Linked DNA regions of Homo sapiens. The protein of the gene in region 1 interacts with the protein of each later gene in a pairwise test. Each region holds a gene or a part of one and is shown on either strand. Other genes may lie near its edges.

The links. The genes of interacting proteins can lie anywhere in the genome.
Region 2: the proteins of ATP7B (region 1) and DCTN4 interact in a two-hybrid assay, tested with the Homo sapiens proteins (one study listed by BioGRID).
Region 3: the proteins of ATP7B (region 1) and GLRX interact in a two-hybrid assay, tested with the Homo sapiens proteins (one study listed by BioGRID).

What each region holds. Positions count from the first base shown.
Region 1 is NC_000013.11:51,931,932-51,938,686, reverse strand, and holds the end of ATP7B (copper-transporting ATPase 2), read left to right. Parts: intron 1-1,007; coding exon 1,008-1,211; intron 1,212-1,293; coding exon 1,294-1,411; intron 1,412-2,991; coding exon 2,992-3,094; intron 3,095-3,657; coding exon 3,658-3,931; 3' UTR 3,932-4,369; coding exon of another isoform or gene 4,370-4,397; 3' UTR 4,398-6,018; downstream 6,019-6,755. Other genes in the region: TMEM272 (transmembrane protein 272), read left to right, coding at 4,370-4,397. UniProt on the Homo sapiens protein: Copper ion transmembrane transporter involved in the export of copper out of the cells. It is involved in copper homeostasis in the liver, where it ensures the efflux of copper from hepatocytes into the bile in response to copper overload.
Region 2 is NC_000005.10:150,755,578-150,763,207, reverse strand, and holds the start of DCTN4 (dynactin subunit 4), read left to right. Parts: upstream 1-4,190; 5' UTR 4,191-4,214; coding exon 4,215-4,349; intron 4,350-4,509; exon of another isoform or gene 4,510-4,647; intron 4,648-4,700; exon of another isoform or gene 4,701-5,092; intron 5,093-5,259; exon of another isoform or gene 5,260-5,287; intron 5,288-6,720; coding exon 6,721-6,791; intron 6,792-7,630. UniProt on the Homo sapiens protein: Part of the dynactin complex that activates the molecular motor dynein for ultra-processive transport along microtubules.
Region 3 is NC_000005.10:95,819,287-95,827,411, reverse strand, and holds the start of GLRX (glutaredoxin-1), read left to right. Parts: upstream 1-4,685; 5' UTR 4,686-4,749; coding exon 4,750-4,956; intron 4,957-8,125. UniProt on the Homo sapiens protein: Has a glutathione-disulfide oxidoreductase activity in the presence of NADPH and glutathione reductase. Reduces low molecular weight disulfides and proteins.

The DNA.
Region 1 (6,755 bases):
TGCTCAGATAAGTGACTCCTGGGCAGTTCTCCAGCAGCCCCTGATGCTGAGTTTGGTCTGTGAGGACAGCACCACTGGATGGCTGCCTGACTTCTCACACAGCAGCGGCTCCAGTTTGGATTCCTAGAAATTATGCACCTCCAAATGTGTGCAGAGCTCTAGGCTTCTGAAAGCTTAATTGTGTTCCTTGAGGGAAGCAGCAGTACCCCTGTTTTCCATGGTCCTCCTTGCTAATTATGGACCTGTTTAGCGTCCTTCCCCCCTTTTCTGGCTAGCACTTGTTCATCTATTCAGCAGGCACTTACGAAGCACCACGAATGTGACAGGCAGGTGTGGGGCCAGGCTCTGTGAGGAGTGAAGGGGGGTCTGCCCTTGACGGGCTCATGGTCTTGCAGGAAGGTGGACCAGTGACTGTGTAGATCTGAGAAGCGGGAAAGGGACTAGGAAAGGAAAACTGCACCTTCCCAGGACAGAGCAGGCAGCAGGAGCATTTCCCAGGGGCACAGAGTAGCACGGCGGTTTGGAGATGCCGCGGGGAGCTGAATGGTATGGTCAAGTGTGGCACCAGCTGCCAGACCCTGGGACCCTGGGACTCTGGGACCCTCGGAAGCAGACCCAAGAGTTGAGCTGCCCTCCTCTGGGAGATGCATGGGGTCTACTGGATGTGAAGCAGGAGAGTAGGGAGGGACATGGCCGGACGGATGCTTTGGAAAGACCATGGGGGCAGCACATGGAGAAGACAGTTGGAGGACTGAGCCGTGGACAGGGAGACCAGCAAGGGGGTTGTTTGCACATCCAGAAAAGGACAGGGCCTAAACCAGTGCAGGGTGTTGGGGCAGGAGCCAGGGATAAACTGGCCCTGTGACAGCAAACCTGCAGGGTGTGGTTGACCAACATCACTGACTGGACCCAGAGGCCGAGGGCAGAGGGGGCAAGGGTAACTTGAGGTTTCTGCTGCTATCTGATACCTTTTGCCAACACTAGGCATTGCCTTCCTTTTGTCTTAGGTTGGCATCAACAAAGTCTTTGCAGAGGTGCTGCCTTCGCACAAGGTGGCCAAGGTCCAGGAGCTCCAGAATAAAGGGAAGAAAGTCGCCATGGTGGGGGATGGGGTCAATGACTCCCCGGCCTTGGCCCAGGCAGACATGGGTGTGGCCATTGGCACCGGCACGGATGTGGCCATCGAGGCAGCCGACGTCGTCCTTATCAGAGTGAGCGTGGCTGCAGCCAGGCTGTGGGTGCTGGGAGGGCAATGGGCAGACCCCTTCCTCACTGTGTGCTCCTCTCCATCAGAATGATTTGCTGGATGTGGTGGCTAGCATTCACCTTTCCAAGAGGACTGTCCGAAGGATACGCATCAACCTGGTCCTGGCACTGATTTATAACCTGGTTGGGATACCCATTGCAGCAGGTAGGCAGCTCTTACCCACTGTGCTCCAGCTGCGCCCAGAAAGGCTTCTGTCTCCCAGGTTCCTGCTGGGGTTAGTGAGTGGCTCACTCACTGGCTGGCTAGAGGCGTTTTAGAAAGGCTGTTTTTTTTTTTTTTTCATGTCCCCTGCTTTATATGTCTTTAAATGAGAAACTGTGGAGAGGACCTGAAACCTTCATTCACTCTGGTCCTTTCTAAAAAGCTAGTGGAGATGCTTGGCTGTATTTTCTGATCCCTATTTTATTGTGGCCTTATTTTCTGAGCCATTTGTTAAGTCATATAGTCTGAGAAATAATCATTAGTAAGAATTATGGGGCATCTGCTACATGCTAGGCACAATTATTGGTGTTTCAGAACCTTATCCTGAACATTAATCCTGCCCAAGTTTCACTCTGAGTTACACAAATGATCATGGAAAGAAATGGCTCTTTGACCAGGCATGGTGGCTCATGCCTGTAATTCCAGCACTTTGGGAGGCTGAGGCAGGAGGGTCATTTGAGCTCAGGGGTTCAAGACTCACCTGGGCAACATGGTGAGACTCCATCTCTACAAAAAATTTTAAAGTTAGCTGGGCGTGGTAGCGTACACCTTAGTCCCATCTGGGAGTACAGAGGCTGGGGCAGAAGGATTTATTGAGCCCAGGAGTTGGAGGTGGCAGTGACCCATGATCGCACCACTGTACTGTAGCCTGGGCAAGAGTGAAACCCTATCTCAGAAAAAAAGAAAAAGAAAAGAAATAGATTTTTCTGCTTTGTAATTCCCCCTCATTCCCCCTCCTTAAGAACCATCTCTCCCCCGCCCCCTGCTCCCTGCCCCCTGCCCCCAGGAACATGGCAATGAAAAGTTCCAGAGTGCTCCTCCATGGGCTGAGGAGAGATCAAGTTTGTAATCACAGCATTCCTGCCTCAGTCTCCCTTGTGTCTGAGTGGTTAGTGGTGACTTGTGTAACAGGGCCTTGGCTTCCTGAGCCCAGTGAGTCAGGCAGGTTTACTTCTTGTCCCCAGAGCCGGCTCAGGAGCTTAATTCCCCCAGTGTATGTGCCTCTGCCACACAAAGTTGACCATACCTGTCTCCTGACCCTGTCCTGGGACCTGGCTCTCATTCCTCTTCTAAAGATGTCATGAAGCCCTGGAGGCGAGATCATCTGCTAGAGAAGGACTGTGGCCCTCAGCCGTGTTTGTCCTCTGTGGGACTGTGGCTACAGGATGGGCAACTGGCTCCCTCAGCTCCTGCCGCTTTTCTCCTCCCGCTCCTCCCACTCCTTGTGGTTTGTCGCTGCCCTGGAGCTCGCCCTGAAATGGGATGCCACCTGTGGGTGGTTCTGGGAACATCAGGGCGAGTGGAAGAGAGCCAGGCCCACTCAACAGCATCCCACACCCAGCTTTCTAGGAAGCCTCACTTTGGGGGGGGCCTGTGGGCAAGATCCATTGGCAGGGGCTTCTGAGCACGCCAGGTGGAGACCTCACTGGGGGCCGCTGAGGGTGGGGCAGCCCGGTGCCTGAAGCCCTCTCCTGGCTCCTCTCCCCAGACCTAGGTGTGAGTGCGAGTTCTTTCTTCCCCAGGTGTCTTCATGCCCATCGGCATTGTGCTGCAGCCCTGGATGGGCTCAGCGGCCATGGCAGCCTCCTCTGTGTCTGTGGTGCTCTCATCCCTGCAGCTCAAGTGGTGAGTCCCCTCAGGTGGAGCATCTGTGGGAGGCTCCCAGGAGGCCTTGTCATTCTGCATGCTTAGCACAGTGGAACTTGCCTCTCATTTCCCATTCATTCACCTGGGACAAATGCTGCAGTGGCAGCCCACATGGAGCCTGGTGTGCATGCATGTAACTTATCAGCACCATGAGCAGGCAATTCACTGCTGCCCATTCACGTGCTGGGCTGCCCTTACTCTGCTCCTCAAGGGCTGTTTATGTGAACATCAAGCAGACATGGGTCCCTGTGTATGATCTATCACTTTTTTATTTAAAAAAGATGTTCACTTATTTATGAGTGCATTCATTTAACAAAAGTTAGTGGCAGCCTACAATGTGCAAGGCATTTGCTTAGGAAGTTTCTAAATCAGGTGAGCTTTCCTGGAACCATAGGGAGTTTAATGTCCTTTTCCTTGGAAACTCTTGAGGTTTTGATACTGAATGTTATTAAAAGATGGATGAGAGGCCTTCACCAGGCTTAGAAAAAAAAAAAGCCTTGTTTCTAGAATGGCTCAGATGCTGTTGCGTTCCTGCTTTCCAGCTATAAGAAGCCTGACCTGGAGAGGTATGAGGCACAGGCGCATGGCCACATGAAGCCCCTGACGGCATCCCAGGTCAGTGTGCACATAGGCATGGATGACAGGTGGCGGGACTCCCCCAGGGCCACACCATGGGACCAGGTCAGCTATGTCAGCCAGGTGTCGCTGTCCTCCCTGACGTCCGACAAGCCATCTCGGCACAGCGCTGCAGCAGACGATGATGGGGACAAGTGGTCTCTGCTCCTGAATGGCAGGGATGAGGAGCAGTACATCTGATGACTTCAGGCAGGCGGGCCGGGGCAGGGACTTGCCTCCACTCACCACAAGCTGAGCAGGACAGCCAGCAGCAGGATGGGCTGAGCTAGCCTCCAGCTTTGGGGACTTCCGCTCCCTGGATATGTCCAGTCATCCTGCCCTGCAGCACGCGGCCTTGTCTGGGTGCAGCTGGGCTTGGCCTGGAGAGGACGGCCCTGCCTGCCTCTTGGCCTCACGGGACCGTCAGCATGGGCTTTGTCTTGGACTCTAGTCCTTGGCTGGACTGTAGAAGGTGAGAGGCGAGTCACCCTCCTCACAGACCTCTGCTTGGAGTATTTAGGATGACTGCTGTGAAATGGAGAACAGTTTCATCAGGACCAAAAAACCTCACTGGGCCTTTCCAGAGAACTGCAGACCTCACTGTCAGGGTCTTTCTGATGACGCCTGTCTGTGTGCATCATGTTTCTGAGACCACAGTTTACCTCAGGTGTGCCTGTTGCTTTCTTCCTGCATAGTCTGTTCCTTTCTTCGTACATAGTCTGTTCCTTTTCTCTCCTGTGTGCTTGTCAGTGGGGACCCCTCGCAACCCTGCCTGTCACCTGGGAGGGTGGGACCAATGTCCTTGTGGTCTTTGCTGCTGCTCTCAGGCGCTTCTCCAATGCTCTGGAGTGTGCATTTCAGCTTGAACCTGCTTCCTGGCTCACACATCCCCAGCCAGGGAGCTTGCCACACTCTTCTTCAAGTTGAGGAGAGTTCTTTTTTGCTTAAAGCCCCCTTCTCCATGGAGTGTTGGCTTCTCAATAGAGTGTTGTTGCTGACCAGCTGGAGTGAGGGCCTCAGAGCCTGACCTGAGAGTCCGTACTCGGCTTCCTGTGGGGTGTAGGTTCTCGCGATTCAGGACGTCCTTCCATATCCCTGCCCAGCCTGTGGTGCTTGAAACGTTTGCCCCATGGGAAACGTATGTGTGCAGGAGCCTCCCTGCACGGCCCAAGGGGCTTCGTTTTCAGTCTTCTGACTGTCACCTCGTGGGGTTCAGTAGAGAATTCATGTGACTAGCGCCTGGCCTTGTGTGGCTTGGAGGAAATGGTACTGCCCAAATAGGAGGAAAACACAGCCTCCCTGAGCCTGCATTCTGCACGCTGCCCAGGGGCTTCAGAAAAGGAGTGGCCACAGCACCCCGAAGGGAGCATCTGTTTACCTGGCAGTGGCTCTCAGAGCAGCAGAACGGGTTCAGTTTTAGACTCTGAAGTTGGTTGTGATTGACAGAACCCTTTGGGAGCAAACTAGTAGAGTTGGATTAAATTCTGGGTGAAACCCTTTTCTCCCACACAAAATAGTTTTAGTGATTTTTTTCATTGTCCATTACTTGCCAGGGGCAGTTTTAGCAGCACTTTTGATAGATTACGTCTAATCCTCCCAACCAACCAGCAGGGTAGCTATTACTGTCCACATTTTACAGGCAAGGAAACAGGCTCCAAGAGGCTGAGGACTTTGCCCAGGATGACATAGCCAATGGACAAGCAGTGTCTGTCAGCTGTGAAGGCTTCACTCTTATTGTCCTTCTACCTTGAATAGAAGTTTTCCTGATAAGAATAAACGAGGAAAAGGTCCTTGCCTCCTGGAAGAACAAATCTACCAGGTGATCTATTCATTGTTTCAACTCAGAATGCACTTGATTCAGGAGGTCATCTGACCTTCACCTTGGATGGTTAGTTTCACTTTTTACATATAGTTTTTGCAGGGTTTTATTTTATAAAATCCAAGCGCGCTGTTGATTGTGTTTTCCTTGTTTTCAGCCCCCCCACTCCAGCCCGCAGCACATTTCCGCTGTCCGTCAGTAATTGTGTCCTCTCTTTATGCTTGCTTGGGGAATGTTGTTTTCTGACTAGGCTGATCATTATCTAAAGAATCTAATTCTGTTGATTTTTAAAACTTTTAGGACCATAAACGTTGTGTTCATATATGGACATGGAAATATTTATATAATTTTATAGAAAATAACCTTTTAGATGGTCAAAGTGTAAGGAGTTTTTTTGTCAGATAATCATTTCTACTTCAAAAACATTTCATGCAATATTAGAATAAAGTTCCTGTCATTCCTCTAAAAATCTGCCTGTGAGTGAGATGCGTGGTCAGAGGCCAGTGCCGTCTTGTCTTCACGAGGGCTTCTGTGAGGCACTGGCTTGGCTTCATGTCTTTTTAGGGGGCAGAGGAGGATAGGATTTTAACAGTAGGGGGAATGAGGGTGGGCAGAGCCCCCTTGATCTGCCATCCCCAGCACTGGTGTGAGTCCCTTTCTCTAATGCAGGCCTGCCTCAGCGGCGTGTGGGGAGAACGCTGAAAGGCAGCTCCTGTCAAAGTCCCTGCCCCGCTGGATCGGACACAGGCTTAAATTACCGCATCGTTTGCACCCCTCTGTTCTAGGGTGAGTGTCTGCAAAAGGCTGTTCTCAAACACATCTCAATCAGGAGGGATATGTTTTGGGTTCCTTGGCCTTGAGGGAGTGAGTCAGGAGGAGGAGCAGAAAAATCTTGACTAGTAGGCTCTGCTGGGAAAGCTCTGTGGGCATCTTGGGGTGGCCGGGGGGTGTAAGTGAGCCACACCTGAAGGGAGTTGACAGTGTAATCTTCACCCACACCAGGACACTTCAAAGAGTGGAAGGAGGCACTATGAATAGTTATGCCAGGACAACTGGCCTAAACCGGGACTATCCAGGCAAACTGGGACATATACTCACCTTCCTTCAAAGGGAAATAGACATTGTGACATCTCCATTGACACAGACTACGTACTTTAGAACCTTGCCTGATCATAGGTTCCAGAGACATGCTGGTGGCATAGTCCG
Region 2 (7,630 bases), on another chromosome or scaffold:
GGCATGAGGAAATCCCATAGGCTCTATCTTCAAAATACAGCCAGAATCCGTGCTCTATGGCACTATCTTCTTTTGCTTGGATCACCATTGGAATTTGCTAACTGAGCCCTGATTCTATCCTTGTCTCTCTACAGTCCATTTCCAAAACGATGTCAGGAATGACCCTTGTAAAATGTGGGTTAGATCACATCACTGCTCTGCTTGAAATCCTGCAATGGTTCCACATTCCCTTCAGAGAAAAATTCAACATCCTTTAAATGCCCTTTGAGATCCTACATGAGTGCACCCCCAGCCCCCATTAACTCTGGGACATCATCCCCCAAACCCCTCCCCCGTGCTCACTCCCTAACAATGACACAGGTCTTGCTGCTCCTCACATACGCCTTAGAGACCTTGTTTAGCTCCTTCTGGAAGGCTCTTTCCCCAGATATCCACTGGGCTCTCGCTCTACCTCCTTCAAATCTTTGCTCAAACCTTACCTTTTCAGGAGGGTTACCCTGACCACACAATCCAGAATTGCAATCCTCCCCTCTCCCCCTATTTCTTGTTCTGCCTTCTAAAAGAAGCAACTGCTTAAAGGTGAAAAAGAAAAAAAAAATTTTTTTAGTTGCCAGCTTCCATATGGCAGCAAGTTCCAGATGGTTTAAAATAGTGTTCATCCACTCGACAAATACTAACCGAGGGCTTGCTCTGTGCCAGGCACTGAGTTAGGCAGGAATTCAGTCTTTAATTCCACTTTGCTCAATTCAGTGAGCAATACACTGGTGCTCTCCTAGAAGCAAGCCTCGGGGTTGGGTGGTGAATTGTGCAAGAGGGAGGGTGAGAAACAGTCTCTGTTTGGCCAAATTTTAGTCAGGCTTCTGAATCTTCTGTAGGCCCATCTGTGCACTTCTCATAAAAAGTGGTTTTAGTGGGCCAGGCGTGGTGGCTCATGCCTATAATCCCAGCACTTTGCGGGGCTGAGGAGGGCAGATCATGAGGTCAGGAGATCCAGACCATCTTGGCTAACACGGTGAAAACCCATCTCTACTAAAAATACAAAAAAATTAGCCGGCCGTGGTGGCGGGCACCTGTAGTCCCAGCTACTTGGGAGGCTGAGGCAGGAGAATGGCATGAACCCAGGAGGCGGAGCTTGCAGTGAGCTGAGATTGTGCCACTGCACTCCAGCCTGGGCGATAGAGTGAGACTCCGTCTCAAAAAAAAAAAAAAAAAGGAAAGAAAAATTCAAAGTTCAGTTCAATTCAAAAGCAAAAACAATTCAAAAGATTTCCCAGAATAAAGGCAGGCCAGCAGTCTTTTGCCATGTTTACACTTGGGAAATTAGCTTTAGCCCTGCCACCACCACATTTCCTGGGCAGTAAGGGCCCCCACAGGGGCTAGCATGGATATTGATGAAACAGGGACTTCTTTTTTCTTCCTCCTCTATTCACTTACTATGACTTTTAGATTAGCCTGTAAATAGATTCAACACAGGAAACCCTATAATTAATATAGTTTTCAAGTAGGAAAGCAAAAGTGGGGAAGGCAGCCAGGGCAGGTGGCCAGCATTGGTGAGAGCAGTTCCCCAGATTCCTAAGCTGTAGAAAACCCTAAGTCTTTGAGGTCAGAGCCCAGATTCGGTCCCCTTCACAAGACCTCATTTGACCAAAGTCTGACTAACTTCCAGTTTTTTCCATTATTATTGTGGATTTACTCTGAAGGACTCTTTATAAAAATGAAAACCACTTTGGGTTTTTCATACTTGGGATATTTAGGGAGCATTTCTTCCATGTGCTTAGTACTTCATACCTTACAAAATGCTTTCACAGCCTGGATGATTTTTTATTTTCACCAAGGCAGGGATTATTCTTCTCATTCTATGTGTCTTGAAACAAGACTCTGAGGTGTAAATGTCTTTTTCAAGATCACATAGCTAGAAAGTGCCAAAAGTATCCACTCAAATTTGATAATATGCCAGGTGGGCAAAACAGTGGGAAATGGATAGCTCATACACTTATAGTGAGAGTGTAAATTGGCCTAGAATTTCACAAGGGCTTATTGCCAGTATTTATTAAATGTGGATATCCTTTGATCTGCCAGTTCAACTTTAGGGTCTCTGTATTAGCCTGAGTTCCCCCTAGAAAGCAGAGCTCAAAATGAGATTCTGCAGGCAGGAAGCCAGGATTGAGAAGTGAATGAGGGTGAGTCCAGGGCTGGGTAGAGTGAAAAAGCAACACAAGGCTACATTATCAAGCTGGTCACCATTGTGCATAACTAGGACTCGATCCTGCTAGAACCCTGAGCCTTTGAGGATGGAAAGTATCTCATTTATCGCTAGTTCCCTCCCCAGTACCTGGCATGTAGCAGGGACAAGATAATTGGCCACTTAATTATTTAAAATCAGTGCTCTAAAAAGTGTCTGTTTTATGTGGATTCAGCTCAAGTCTCCAGCCTTTCTGTACCTGCAGGCTCTGGGACTTCATTTTAACAGCATAGTCCAGAAAAGGGAATTTAAACTCAGTAGAGACTAGTTTATAAACCAGAAAACCAACGAATTCATTAACCTAAAGAAATAATTGCAAATGAGTTGGCTAGTAATATATTCTCTCCTAGGAGCAGATGTCACCTATGAAACTAAATTAGTGCCAGGCTATTGCTTGGTGAACAAGTAATGACTTTTAGGCTCAATTGGTAAAGCGTGACATAAATTGTGAGATTAGCACTGTATAAGCTGAAAAGGTCTATATAAATGTAAGGTATTATTAACATCACCATATTAGAAAATATGCTGGAGGGAGTATACATAGGGGTTATACCTGCAAGCACTAGAGTCAGAGAGAAAAGGGTTCTACCTCCATCTATGAAACCTTATAGAGGAGTCACTGCACTTCCCTGTGCCTCAGTTTCCTGCTCTGTAAAATAGAAATAATGATAGCCACATGCTTTTTGGAGCTGTTGTAAGAATTAAATTAGACAATGTATGTAAAGTTTTGACACAGTGTGCTGCACTTAATAAGTGCTCAATAAATGTTTGCTAATAGTATTCAGTTCCCTTTCTTCTCAATCACCAACTCTAACGTCAGACAGGTAATAATACAACACTACTACAATTATAAAAATGTAGACCTGGTGGCAGGCAACAGAGGCTCCAGTTTCTGCTAGGCAGTTCTAGGTGGTCATTTTACATACTGGGGAGTCCCAGTTAGAGAAAGGGAGTCAGGCTAGTGGGACCAAGGGATAGCAAGAAGAGCAGATGCACTCTAAGTCTGCCTTTCTTCATGGTGCAGGACACGTAGCCCTCCTGTGCAAATAACTCACAATCTTCCTGCACTCAGCTATCACGAGACACATGCAAGTTAGCTCCCTGTAACCTTGGAGTTCTCGGTACTGCACAGCACTCTGCAGCCCAAGAACCATCGGATAAAATCTCCAGCAAGCCTTTGTTTCCTTGAAGTCAGCTCCTCTCTGGCTGGTCTGCCCATTGCAACCTTTCAACGTATTTTCATACCTTCTCTAATAAATCTGCATTTCTTTACCTAAAACTGTTGATAAATTATTTTCCCACCCATGTAATACCAGTCTCACGTAGTCGCTGCTCACCCAAGAGGCAGACCTGAGCCTTAGTTTACACATTAGAAAAACGTAGACGCCTACCAACATTGTTCATTCATTGATTTCATTCCCTCCTTTTCATACTTATTGAAGGTCCACAATACAGACTTAGACCTAACGCTAACTATGTACTCAAAAACCTGCGTTTCAAATGAGATAATGTATGTGAAAGTTCCCAAAGGCCATTGGCAAGACTCAGAAGACAGTGCTGGTGTGACTCCTGTCTTGCAGTCCCCACGGAGCCCTGTCCCTTTGAGACCTTCCATTTGTCTCCTGGATGCTCGCCTGTTAAGTGGGGCAGAGGAGGCCGTCGTAAATAAGACAAAAGATCAGGCTTCCATTCTGGAAGAAAAGAATAAAAGGAGCTCACTGAGTCCAGACCTAATGGCAGTAAGGGCAGTGGACGCTCACAAAAGCGCTGGGGGACGGGCCCAGAGTTGGGGAGAAAACAGGGATCCCAGCTGCGCACGCGCGCTCTGGTTTTCGACGGGCGCAGAGCCGGACGAGGTGGGAAACCTAACGTCAAAGTCTACGTAGGAAGTCGTAGGGAAGGCAGCGAGGAAGACGCTGGCTCTCGGGTCACGTGATGCGCCGGGAGCGTCATCGCCTCCTCCCTCCCCAAGATGGCGTCCTTGCTGCAGTCGGACCGGGTTCTCTATCTAGTCCAGGGAGAAAAGAAGGTTCGGGCCCCGCTCTCGCAACTCTACTTCTGCCGCTATTGTAGCGAACTGCGGTCGCTGGAATGTGTGTCTCACGAGGTAACAGAGTCGCCCTATAGCGAGTATGTGGGGTGGGGGGGGCGCGGCGTTCATGCTAGTCACTGCCACCGGAAGGCTGGAGCTATTTTCCTTCCTTACTGATTGGTTATGTCTTCCGTCACTCGGGTTTGCCTGCGATTTAATTTGCTTCTAATCTGTCACTTGGAAAGGAGGAGCAGCCTCGGGTGGGACTGAGCGGATCTTCTGGTTCTAGAGCGGCCTCTGATTGGACAAACTTGACTTAGGGACCGTGTCTGTCTGCGATGGGGCTTGGTAATTGGGTGGACTACGGAGAAAGGTCTGGGGGTGCTTAGTTCAGGCCACTTAAGGGGCGAAAAACTGCCTTTCCAGGATTTATTGCGAGGATGGAGGGAGGCGCAGGCGTTCTCATTCATAGTTCTCCCATCCTGAAAGTTCTGTTCCTCTTTTGTCCAGAAACTGGGCCCTCGTCAGACTGCCTTGCCCTGTTCCTGACTCAGGCCAAGGCCTGCAGCCGGGAAGAGGTTGGGGCGGCGTGAGTTATGTGAAAAGCGCTCAGAATACAGTATGTCATGTAAGAAGCTGAAAGTGTATTTATGGAGCTAGAGGACAATGCTGTCCTTCCCTGGCACAAGTGGGCGTCCGAAGTTGGATTTTTCAAAAAGAAGACCCCGGCCAGTAAAAAGTCACCAAATAACAAAACCCCAAAACTTCTGCAGCGCTTGGCACATCTTGTTTATTCAGTAAGCTTTAGGGATTAAAAGGCGAGTAAGACATAAAATGCGCTGTTTAATAAGCCATAGTCTTAGTGAAGAAAAAGCTGATAGTAGTAATAGTTGCTGCTTATTCGATACTTGCTATATGTCATGTGCTTTATGTAATCTTCAAACCAATTTAAGTGGATACTTTTTTTAAAAAATTTTTTTTACAGGTAAAGAAACAGATACAGAGTGTTCGCTGTAAGTCACACAGCCAGTAATTTGGGGGTGGGAAGGAGGACCTGGATTTGAATCTAAACAGCCTAACTCAGAGTGTTTTTTACTGAAGATCCCGGGACTGTTAAAATAAATGCATATGAAAACACATACTATAAGCCATTTTATGTGTTATTAATAACTTATTTTATTGAAGATACTTTTCATAATAGGAATAGTCAAGAAAAGCAATTAAATAATACAAGAAAAATCGTATATATTAAAAATATGGCATCGATTTTTCTTCTCATCTCCATTAGCACTTTCCTTATGTGTATCTCCTTGATGATTCCCTATTCCAGCTCCACCTCCAGAATTTATTGGATCATATTCTCCTGTGGTGAATAGAGTGCTCAGTCTCCATGATCTGTCTCTAAGACTCTCTTCAATTAGGACATCCAGTCTGTGACAGCATCTTTTACAGCCTGATGTGTACCTGTGATATGGAGGCCATTAGAGTTTAGGGAAAGATGAAGCTCTGAGGGCTGGGGCAGGCAGTGAAGTTCTAATGGAGAATCTGGGTCTGGAGCTGCACATGAACGGACAAGCAGAATTTGGAAAGGGGGCAAAAAGGAATGACTTGTATTTTGCCTTTTTTGATGAGTCAGTGCAGAGGTTAGTTAGCAATATTGTATTTTATGTTCCTGGAGATTATTTGAGCAACAACTTTATTAATCTTTTCAAATTGACCTGTTTATAGCAGATGATGAAAAAAGCCAGTTTCTATCATAGTATTTATGTTCCAGTGATTGTCTTTTCATTTGCAGGTGACTAGAGTTCTATAATTGTCAAATAGGACCTACATTAAAGAAAATAATTATTCAGACTTTTAAAAAATAAAATGAACTTAAATTTTAGACTCCAGTTTTTTAAGTACAATAAGACTGTCCCATTAATTTGTTTAAAAATCTCTAATTGGTTGGCCATAGCTGACTATGTAAATAAATATTTATGCTTGCCTTCAGTCAACCTGTATTACTTCAATAATGAGAAATCTTTAAAAAAATGTCCTTCAAAACCTAAAAGTATGGTCAAGTTTTATAGTCATATAAAGCTAGCCTAGACAGGAGGATATTTTATCACAATGTTACAAATTGGATTATTTTATTAATCTCTTTATTAATCATAGAATTCTATGGAGTTCAACTGGAAATTGTAGATTGTTAAATAAACAACTTTTAACACATAAAACCCTGATGATGGAATAGGAAAGATCAGAAAAATAGAAGGATTTTTTAAATCCGGAAGAAGAAGAAAAAAAAAAAACAGGTGACTGAAGAAGAATAAACCCTAAGCAGAAAACAGTCTACTTTCTGCTACAGTATAACATATTTTAAAATTCACTATTTGACAAGACATATACACAAGTTAAACTGAGTTCTCCTCTGGTTTTTTTTTTCTTTCTTGTTTCCTCCTAGGTGGACTCCCATTATTGTCCCAGTTGTTTAGAAAATATGCCATCGGCTGAAGCCAAACTAAAAAAGAATAGGTAAGACCTGGACTGATTTTTTTTTTCTTCCTATTTTCCTTGACTGTTCTCTAAAATAGCTAGTTAAAAAGACACATGGGCCAGGCATGGTGGCTCACGCCTGTAATCCCAGCACTTTGGGAGGCGGAGGCAGGGATCACGAGGTCAAGAGGTTGATACCATCCTGGCTAACATGGCGAAACCCCATCTCTACTAAAAATACAAAAAATTAGCTAGGTGTGGTGGCACGCGCCTGTAGTCCCAGCTACTTGGGAGGCTGAGGCAGATGAATTGCTTGAACCTGGGAGGCAGACATTGCAGTGAGCCAAGATTGTGCCACTGCACTCCAGCCTGGGCAACAGAGCAAGTCTTTGTCTCAAAAAAAAAAAAAAAAAAAAGACACATGAAATTAACTTTTTTAACCAGCTCTTTTTCATTTTTAAGCATCACCATTGCCAAAGATGAAATCCCCTTTGATTTTTGAAATAGATTTTCTACTTTAGAACAGTTTTGTACTTCAGAATTATGGTGAAGATAGTATGGAGAGTTCCCATTTACCTCACATCCAGTCTCCCCTATTGTTAACTTTTTACATTAGTGTGGTATATTTGTTACAATTAATGAACCAATACACTACATTTTATTCAGATTTCCTTAGTTTTTCTGTGGTCTCCTTTTTTTCCAGGATTCTTTTCAGGATATCACATTATATTTATAGTTATGTCTCTAGACTCCTCTTGGGTGTGGTGTGATAGGAGAATCTTAAAATTTCCTTGGTTTTGATGACCTCAAAAGTATTGAGGAGTACTGGTGAGGTATTTTATAGAATGTCATTTCATTAGGATTTGCATGATGTTTTT
Region 3 (8,125 bases), on another chromosome or scaffold:
GCTCAGAGTCCACACAGTTGGAGCAAAGGAGAAATTGTTGCAGAACTTTCCCCTTAGTTCCGGTAAAACTGGGCTCTTGTCACACGACCAGGAAAGATTAGGCTTGCGGACACACAGAAGGGTGAGGAAAATGGAATTTATTGGATGAAAAGGAAAAAGGAAAAATAATTCTCAGCAAAGCAAGAGAGAGTCCTGATAGCAGGTTTCCCGGCTCACAGATTGAGTTCCAGGTCAGCACACAGGAACAGGAGAGGCCAGGCTCCTCCTCGCTGCAAACGGTGCAAACTTCCCAAAGTTCCATTCCGCCTTCCCAGTGCACAGGTGGGCATTATTCAGAAAGAATCAGTCAGGAAAAGGTGGGCCTCATCCAGGACCAGCAGTCCAATTTTTGTCTTTGTTTCTGGTATTTTTTGAGACAGAATTTTGCCCTTGTTGCCCAGGCTGGAGTGCAATGGCACGATCTTGGCTCACTGCAACCTTCGCCTCCTGGGTTCAAGTGATTCTCCTGCCTCAGCCTCCCAAGTAGCTGGGATTACAGGCGCCTGTCACCATGCCCAGCTAATTTTTTTTGTATTTTTAGTAGAGATAGGGTTTCACCATGTTGGCCAGGCTGGTCTTGAACTGCTGACCTCAGGTGATCCACCTGCCTTGGCCTCCCAAAGTACTAGGACAGCAGTCCAGTTTTTCAGCCTTCAGGTTGTTTTAGACTTGGAGGCAGGGTTTCACCAGGGACCCTTGGCTGCCTCCTGTCTCTAAAATGTTGGTGGGGAGGCTGGGATACGATGAACAAGGTAGGGAGGACCCATCACACAGGGCCACATCCCCACAGGGAAATCTGGATTTTGTCCTGGGGAAACATGGACTAGTTTTTTGTTTGTTTGTTTGTTTGTTTGTTTTTTGAGTTGGAGTCTTGCTCTGTCACCCAGGCTGGAGTGCAGTGGCACAATCTCCATTCACTGCAACCTCTGCCTCCCGGGTTCAAGAGAGTCTCCTGTTTCAGCCTCCCAAAGAGCTGGGACTACAGGCACACGCCACCACGCCCAGCTAATTTTTAAATTTTTAGTAGAGATGGGGTTTCACCATATTGGCCAGGCTGGTCTCAAACTCCTGACCTCATGATCTGCTCGCCTCAGCCTCCCAAAGTGCTGGGATTACAGGCATGAGCCACCACGCCCAGCCCATGGACTAGTTTTAAGAGGGAACAAGATAGGTTCTGTATTTTTAAAGATTGCCCCAGCAGCAGTGTGGAGTAGGCAGTGAGGCGAGGGTGGAGGTGCTACAAGAGGGAGTGAAGAACTAATGAGGGCTAGAGCAGCAGGAGCAGTCAGGTGTTCAGACCAGGGAGGCACTCAGGAGGCAAACTTGGTAGGGTTTGGCCACTATGCATAAGTGAAAGCAGAGGCCAGCACAGATGCCTGCCAGGTTTCCGCCCTGGCCGAAAAGGTACATGAAGGTGCATGCAGGCTCAATGAGCAGGTATGGAGGAAAGAGGGTGGCTTCAGGGGAGATTCAGTTTTGGCTGCCTAGAGGCTGAGAGGCCTAAGGAATCCCCAGGTGGGTCTTTTCAGTAGGCAATGAGATAGCCTTCCCTGAAGCTTAGGAGAGAGGTCCAGATAAGGAAAAACGTGATGCTCATCAGTAAAAAGCTGACAGCTGGAGTCATGTGTGGAGCTACGACCTCTCAAGGAGTGGGTGTGTACACAATGAGAAGATCAAGCCCCAAGATAGACCATATGTGTAGGCAAAATTCTTAACAAAGACACTGAGACAATATCCAATAGAAAGAGCAAAAAGATCATGCTGCAATGGGCAGTGGGAAGAGAACTTCCAGAGGCCTGCAGTGATCTACAAGGTCAAACCCTGCACAGTGGGTAAGGAAAAACCCTGAAGAATGTTCGTTTGTGGCCACATTTTTTGCAGCCCTCATCAGCCTGTGAGTACAAATGAAGTCACATTGGCCGGGCACGGTGGCTCACGCCTATAATCCCAGCACTTTGGGAGGCTGAGGTGGGCAGATCACGAGGTCAGGAGATCGAGACCATCCTGGCTAACACGGTGAAACCCCGTCTCTACTAAAAATACAAAAAATTAGCCGGGTATGGTGGCGGGTGCCTGTAGTCTCAGCTACTCAGGAGGCTGAGGCAGGAGAATGGTGTGAACCCGGGAGGCGGAGCTTGCAGTGAGCAGAGATCGTGCCACTGCACTCCAGCCTGGGCAACAGAGTGAGACTCCGTCTCAAAAAAAAAAAAAAAAAAAAAAAGAGTAACCACACATATTTCACTAGCTTGTTGCCAACCATCTGTAAAGCAGGACTGATTCTCCCCTAAAAAATGCCCTCACTTCCCACCCTCCAAGGTGTATTTTCTGAGAGTGCCTGGGAGTGTCTCACACAAGCCAAAGGAGAGTCCACACGTGTTAGTCCACACGCACACCCTCTTTCCATCCACAGCACTTGACGCATCTGCAGTCCCCATGGCGGCTTTCCATTGAGATGCCCTAAGGTCCATGCTGGGTTTCAGCTCCTGCTGTACAATGCAGCAGAGGCTTCTATGCTTGTCATTTTTCACTGAGTTGAAGCCACAGCATTTTCTGAGAAATGGAGAGGACACCCGTTCTTTGCCATCTCTTTGTCTCCCATTTTCCACATGGTGCCTCACAAAAAAATTGCCTTTAGCTTGTGCCTTATGGCCATCTGTCCTAAGGCTTCAGACACCAGGCAGTCCCCGGGACTGAGTGAGAGGCAGACAATAGTCTCCCTGGATCCCAGCCTCTTGGGGCAGGTGACTAATTTGCAAAAGGTCAGGATACCTAGCTAAATGGTCATTTGGTGACATAGAGGCCATGATTAGTGTCTGCCAACAATTCAGCAGAATGGTTGACAAGGTCAGATAACAACAAAATGAGAGAATGGAGGTGAGAAAGGTACAGACAGTAAATTTCATGAAAGGGCAGAGGCAGGAAAGCAGGAAATGGGGAGTGGTGGTGGTGGTGGTGGCTTTTAACTTGAACACAGTGGCAGGCTGAGGCACCAGGAAGGGAGGAGCCAACAACAGACCGGAGAAGAGAAAGGCTCTGAGTGAGTAGCAGGTGCAAGTCGTGTGGATAAACCTCAGGCTGAGGGAACTTAAGGCAACAGCCTGAGGGCCCTGAAACAGACCCTGGACCTCCTGGCAGGGGCCTCTGGAAGGAGCCTGGCCACAGGGTTCTGAGGTAAAAGAATGAAAAAAGAGAGGAGGCTCAGACTCTGTGGCAGAGCCTACTTTGGAGGGAAGTGGGAAGTGGGAAGTCCGGAGCCCTGACCACGTGAGGGGCCTCCCAGCCCTGCCACATCCTTTTCTCTGGACAGAGCTGTCACTTAGCTCCCCCTCCGTGACTCAGAATCTGGCTTTCTCATTTTGCCATTTTAATTCTAGTAACGATGAGAGTCACAGTAAAAAGCTGCTTCTGGGAGTGGATTTTCTTCCCTTCCCTTGATCGCAGTATGCTTGGGATTCCTCTTACGTGGCAGTCGTGGTGTCCAGCTCTGGCCTTGGCCCCGCCTCTTTGAAGATACTCTGGTTTCACCATAAAACTTCCTGGGGAAAGGATGATTCACGTTTAAAGGACATAGTTTTTCCTTGATTTGTTTATTTAAGCTACCATACACTAGAGGGGGCCGGAACTAGACCCAGGAGTAGAGGACTTTGCTTTGCGGGATAAGGAGAATGGGCACCCTGGGGAAGAGCGAAAGATTTCCTACTGTTACAACCCGTGTCTTATAACACTTGAAGTGAATGTGGTGTCTGAGTTACAACACTACTTCCCCTCACAAACAGTTAAAAGCAGAGGGTCACAAACATAGGCTCAACCAGAAAAAAAGATTCTCATTTCATCTGTAGTTTTGTATCAAGGATTGTGTTGGAATTTGCCTCCATATTAAACTGCTGTTCAAGGGTTACCAACTCAAATGGTTATGGGGTGAAGCCGGTGTCTCAGGCATGGGCCTGTCGTTGGGACCTGTGGCAAACCAAAGCCACTACTTGCCCTATACAAAGGGGGCAACAGCTGTCAGCCCCAGCAGCTTCCACTAAAAGGTGCAAGCTCTGTATTGCCCGACCTGACTTTTCAGAGAGAAGTTTTAAGTCCGAATTGTTTTGTGAGACCTCCAGATTTTTAAATACTGAGAATGAATTCCATTAAAAAGATCACAACAACAAACACCCACCATACAGTCCAAGCAAAATGCTGTGAGAGCAACCTTCATGAGGAGTGCAAAGTCACAGTTTCAATTTCACTTCTTCTAAAGAGATTTCCAAGTGTTCTGTTTCTTAAGTGATTCTGTTTGCATTTTAAAATACAACTGTATCTCCTAGAGGGAAAACAAGAATTTGCTCTAAGAAGTCACTGCCTCCTCAGCCCCTTTGTGAGTAAGCACTTTATGCTTCCCCAGAGGTGACTAAACTCTGATCATTGCCAATGGGCAGGCACTCCCCAAATGTCCAAGGACAACAAAGATACCCAGAGTGTCTTTCATAGCTACCAATGATTAAATAGCAAGTATTGCATTCCTGGGCATTGCTAACTAGTGAAGTATACCAGATGGAAATGTCTTCGAAGCTGTCCCTTTAAAACTCGAGCAAGCTACCAGGCAAACTCCGCCTCCAGGGAGGTTCCTTATTAAATAGGAGCCAACTGGCTGGGTCGGGGCTCAATACCCCAAGCAATACCTGCAACTGAGGATTCTTCCCGGGGAGACCGCAGCCCATCGGCATGGCTCAAGAGTTTGTGAACTGCAAAATCCAGCCTGGGAAGGTGGTTGTGTTCATCAAGCCCACCTGCCCGTACTGCAGGAGGGCCCAAGAGATCCTCAGTCAATTGCCCATCAAACAAGGGCTTCTGGAATTTGTCGATATCACAGCCACCAACCACACTAACGAGATTCAAGATTATTTGCAACAGCTCACGGGAGCAAGAACGGTGAGTTTCATTTTAAACGGCTAGGGAAAGGCTCCCGGATTGCCTTTTCTTGTCAGAGCTGTGCCTTTCTTTAGGATAAGGCTGCGGCTCCGTACTTCAAGGCGTCCAGAGGGCTGTGCGGGGCGGGGGGTGTGGGGGAGGGCGCCTTAGAGAGGATCTCGGTCACTTGAATGAGCGGCGGCACTGCAGCCAAAGGTCTTCACGGGGCAGAAGAGGGAGTACAGCTGATGTCTGCTGTGCGGCAGGGTAAGTGGGACCAGCAGCTTGCCGGTGAGTCCCTGGGGAATTATCTAGAGTCTTTGTTTTAAGCACTGCCAGGAAATGACAGTTTTCAGTTGGCAGGGCTGGAGGTGGAAGCTGGGGTGGAGGGCCGGGTGTGATGTGTTTGTTATTTAACATGAGATTCATGTTCTTCATTCTTTTCTCTAGGCTTTCTTTTTCTAATTTGCTCATTCTTCCTTATCTAATTCCTCCCACTGGAAAAATCTAATGTACCGTTATCTGCCCCTTGTTCTAAATTAATTATGGATGTTTCCAGGCCCCACATTGTAGGGAATCATAGCCTGGAGTTCTGGCCTGGCTCTTATAATGGCTGGCTGTGTGATCCTGGGCAAGTCACCACCCCAGTAGTCCTCAAAGATCCCAGCTGCAAGACCAGATTAGGTGACCTCAGAGTCCCATTTGCTACGAATAGACTGTGGGACCCTCTAAAAATTGCTCTCCTCCATCCGAAAGACTTCCCTCTCTTCAGCATCCTTGGCTTTGCGTCCTGGGCTTCAGGAGGGATGCCAGCCACATCACCTGTATCAGTTCTGCTGTGAGGTGGGATGAGAAATGTCCCACCAGCTCAGCTAAGTTCTCTTTTACGATGCACGAATTCTACAGCACAGTGTTAGGCCAAGCACATATCCTATTTCAGTTTTAGTTTGACTTACAAGGTTGTCTCTGGGTTCTGAGTATAAAGCATTGGAGGTTGTTTCTCTCCCCTTCTCTCTAATAAGAAGTCAGCATTTTGGTGCAGAAAGGGGGCTTAGTGTGTTATCCTACTGCTGTGTGCTGAGGTCCTGGAGTATACACAATGACGAGAGAAGCTCTTGCTGCCTAGTGGGACCACCAGCTGCATAGGATGCCCAGGCCCTGAGAGGTGTAAAGGGCAGTGCAAACACTACTACGGGCCCCACTGTGGCTGCCACCCTGAGGACCTTTTAGCCATTGGTTCCCAAACTTTGCTGCACATTAGGATCACCTAGAGAGCTTTTAAAACAATCCTTATGCCCAAATTATGCCCCTCAATAACTAAATCACAATGTCAGAGGTGGGAGCCAAGCATTAGTTTTGTTTGTTCGTTTGTTTTGAGACAGTTTCATTCTTGTCACCCAGGCTGGAGTGCAATGGTGCAATCTTGGCTCACTGCAACCTCTGCCTCCTGGGTTCTCCTCAACCTCCCAAGTAGCTGGGATTACAGGCGCCCACCACCATGCCCAGCTAATTTTTGTATTTTTAGTAGAGACGGGGTTTCACCATGTTGGCCAGGCTGGTGTCGAACTCCTGACCTCAGGCGATCCACCTACCTCGGCCTCCCAAAGTGCTGGGATTAAACGGGTGAGCCACCACACCTGGGATTTTTATTTGGAAAAATCCCTTGGGGATTCCAATGTGCAACACAATTGGGATTATTGTTCTCAGCCCAACAGCATCTATTTTCCAGGAGGTAAAGCAAACCTCTTCATGTGTTCATTTAACAATTGCTTTTTTTTTTTTTTTGAGATGGAATTTCGCTCTTGTCGCCCAGGCTGGAGTGCAGTGGTGTGATTTTGGCTTACTGCAACCTCCACCGCCCAGGTTCAAGCAATCAAGTAGCTGGAATTACGGGCACCTGCCACCACACCTAGCTAATTTTTGTATTTTTATTAGAGATGGGGTTTCACCATGCTGGCCAACCTGGTCTCGAACTCCTGACCTCAGGTGATCCACCCACCTCAGCCTCCCAAAGTGCAGGTGTGAGCTACCACACCTGGTCAACAATTGCTTTTTCATTTCTTTGTAGAACAACAATATTTCTTGTAGTAATCTTTTAAGGTTTTTTTTTTTTTTTTTTTTTTTAAGAGACAGAGTCTTGCTCTGTCACCCAGGCTAGAGTGCAGTGGTGCAATGATAGCTGACTGCAGCCTCGAACTCCTGGGCTTAAGTGACCCTCCCACCTCAGCCTCCCGTGGCTGGGACTACAGGCATGAGCCATCATACCCAGCTAATTTTTTAAGTTTTTGTACAGATGGGGGTCTTGTTATGTTACCCAGGCTGGTCTTGAACTCCTGGCCTCAAGCTATCCTCCCACCTCAGCTTCCCAGAGTGCTGGGATTACAGATGTGATCCACCTCAACAAGCCTGTTTTTCATTTTTAGAAAAATGTTTTTCACAGATTCTTGAATTCTGAGTGCATTCCTCCTAGGGGAAGAACAAGCCTTTTAAAGCTGCATGTTTGATCCCCAACAGGGAAGTGTTTGTATTCAAAGGGTCTGAAAGCTCCCGAGGGTTTTTTTTTTTTTTTTTTTTTTTTTGAGACGGAGTCTCCCTCTGTGCCCAGGCTGGAGTGCAATGGCGCAATCTCAGCTCACTGCAAGCTCCACCTCCCGGGTTCACGCTATTCTCCTGTCTCAGCCTCTCGAGTAGCTGGGACTACAGGCGTCTGCCACCATGCCTGGCTAATTTTTTGTATGTTTAGTAGAGACGGGTTTTCACTGTGTTAGCCAGGATGGTCTCAATCTCCTGACCTCGTGATCCACCCGCCTCAGCCTCCCAAAGTGCTGGGATTACAGGCGTGAGCCACGGCGCCCGGCCTGATCCTGCAGTCTTAATTATTCTATAAAGTAGCTGTATCTAGTAGGTAATCAGCAGGACATGATTATGGAAAGTTAGTGGCTTCAATCAAGCCATGTACTTGGTAAAACCTGTTTTTGTTTTGCTATAGTCACAGCTCCTAAATTAGTGCCTTCATTTATTTCTCCTCTAATGCACTTTTCTTTACATAGATCTGAGTTTCTGAACTATATCATTTCCCTTCTCTCTGAAGAACTTCTTTGGGCATTTCTTGCAAGGTGATTCCATTGGTAACACATTCCCTCAAGTTTTGTTTACCTTAGAAAGTATTTCTCCTTCGCATTTGAATGAT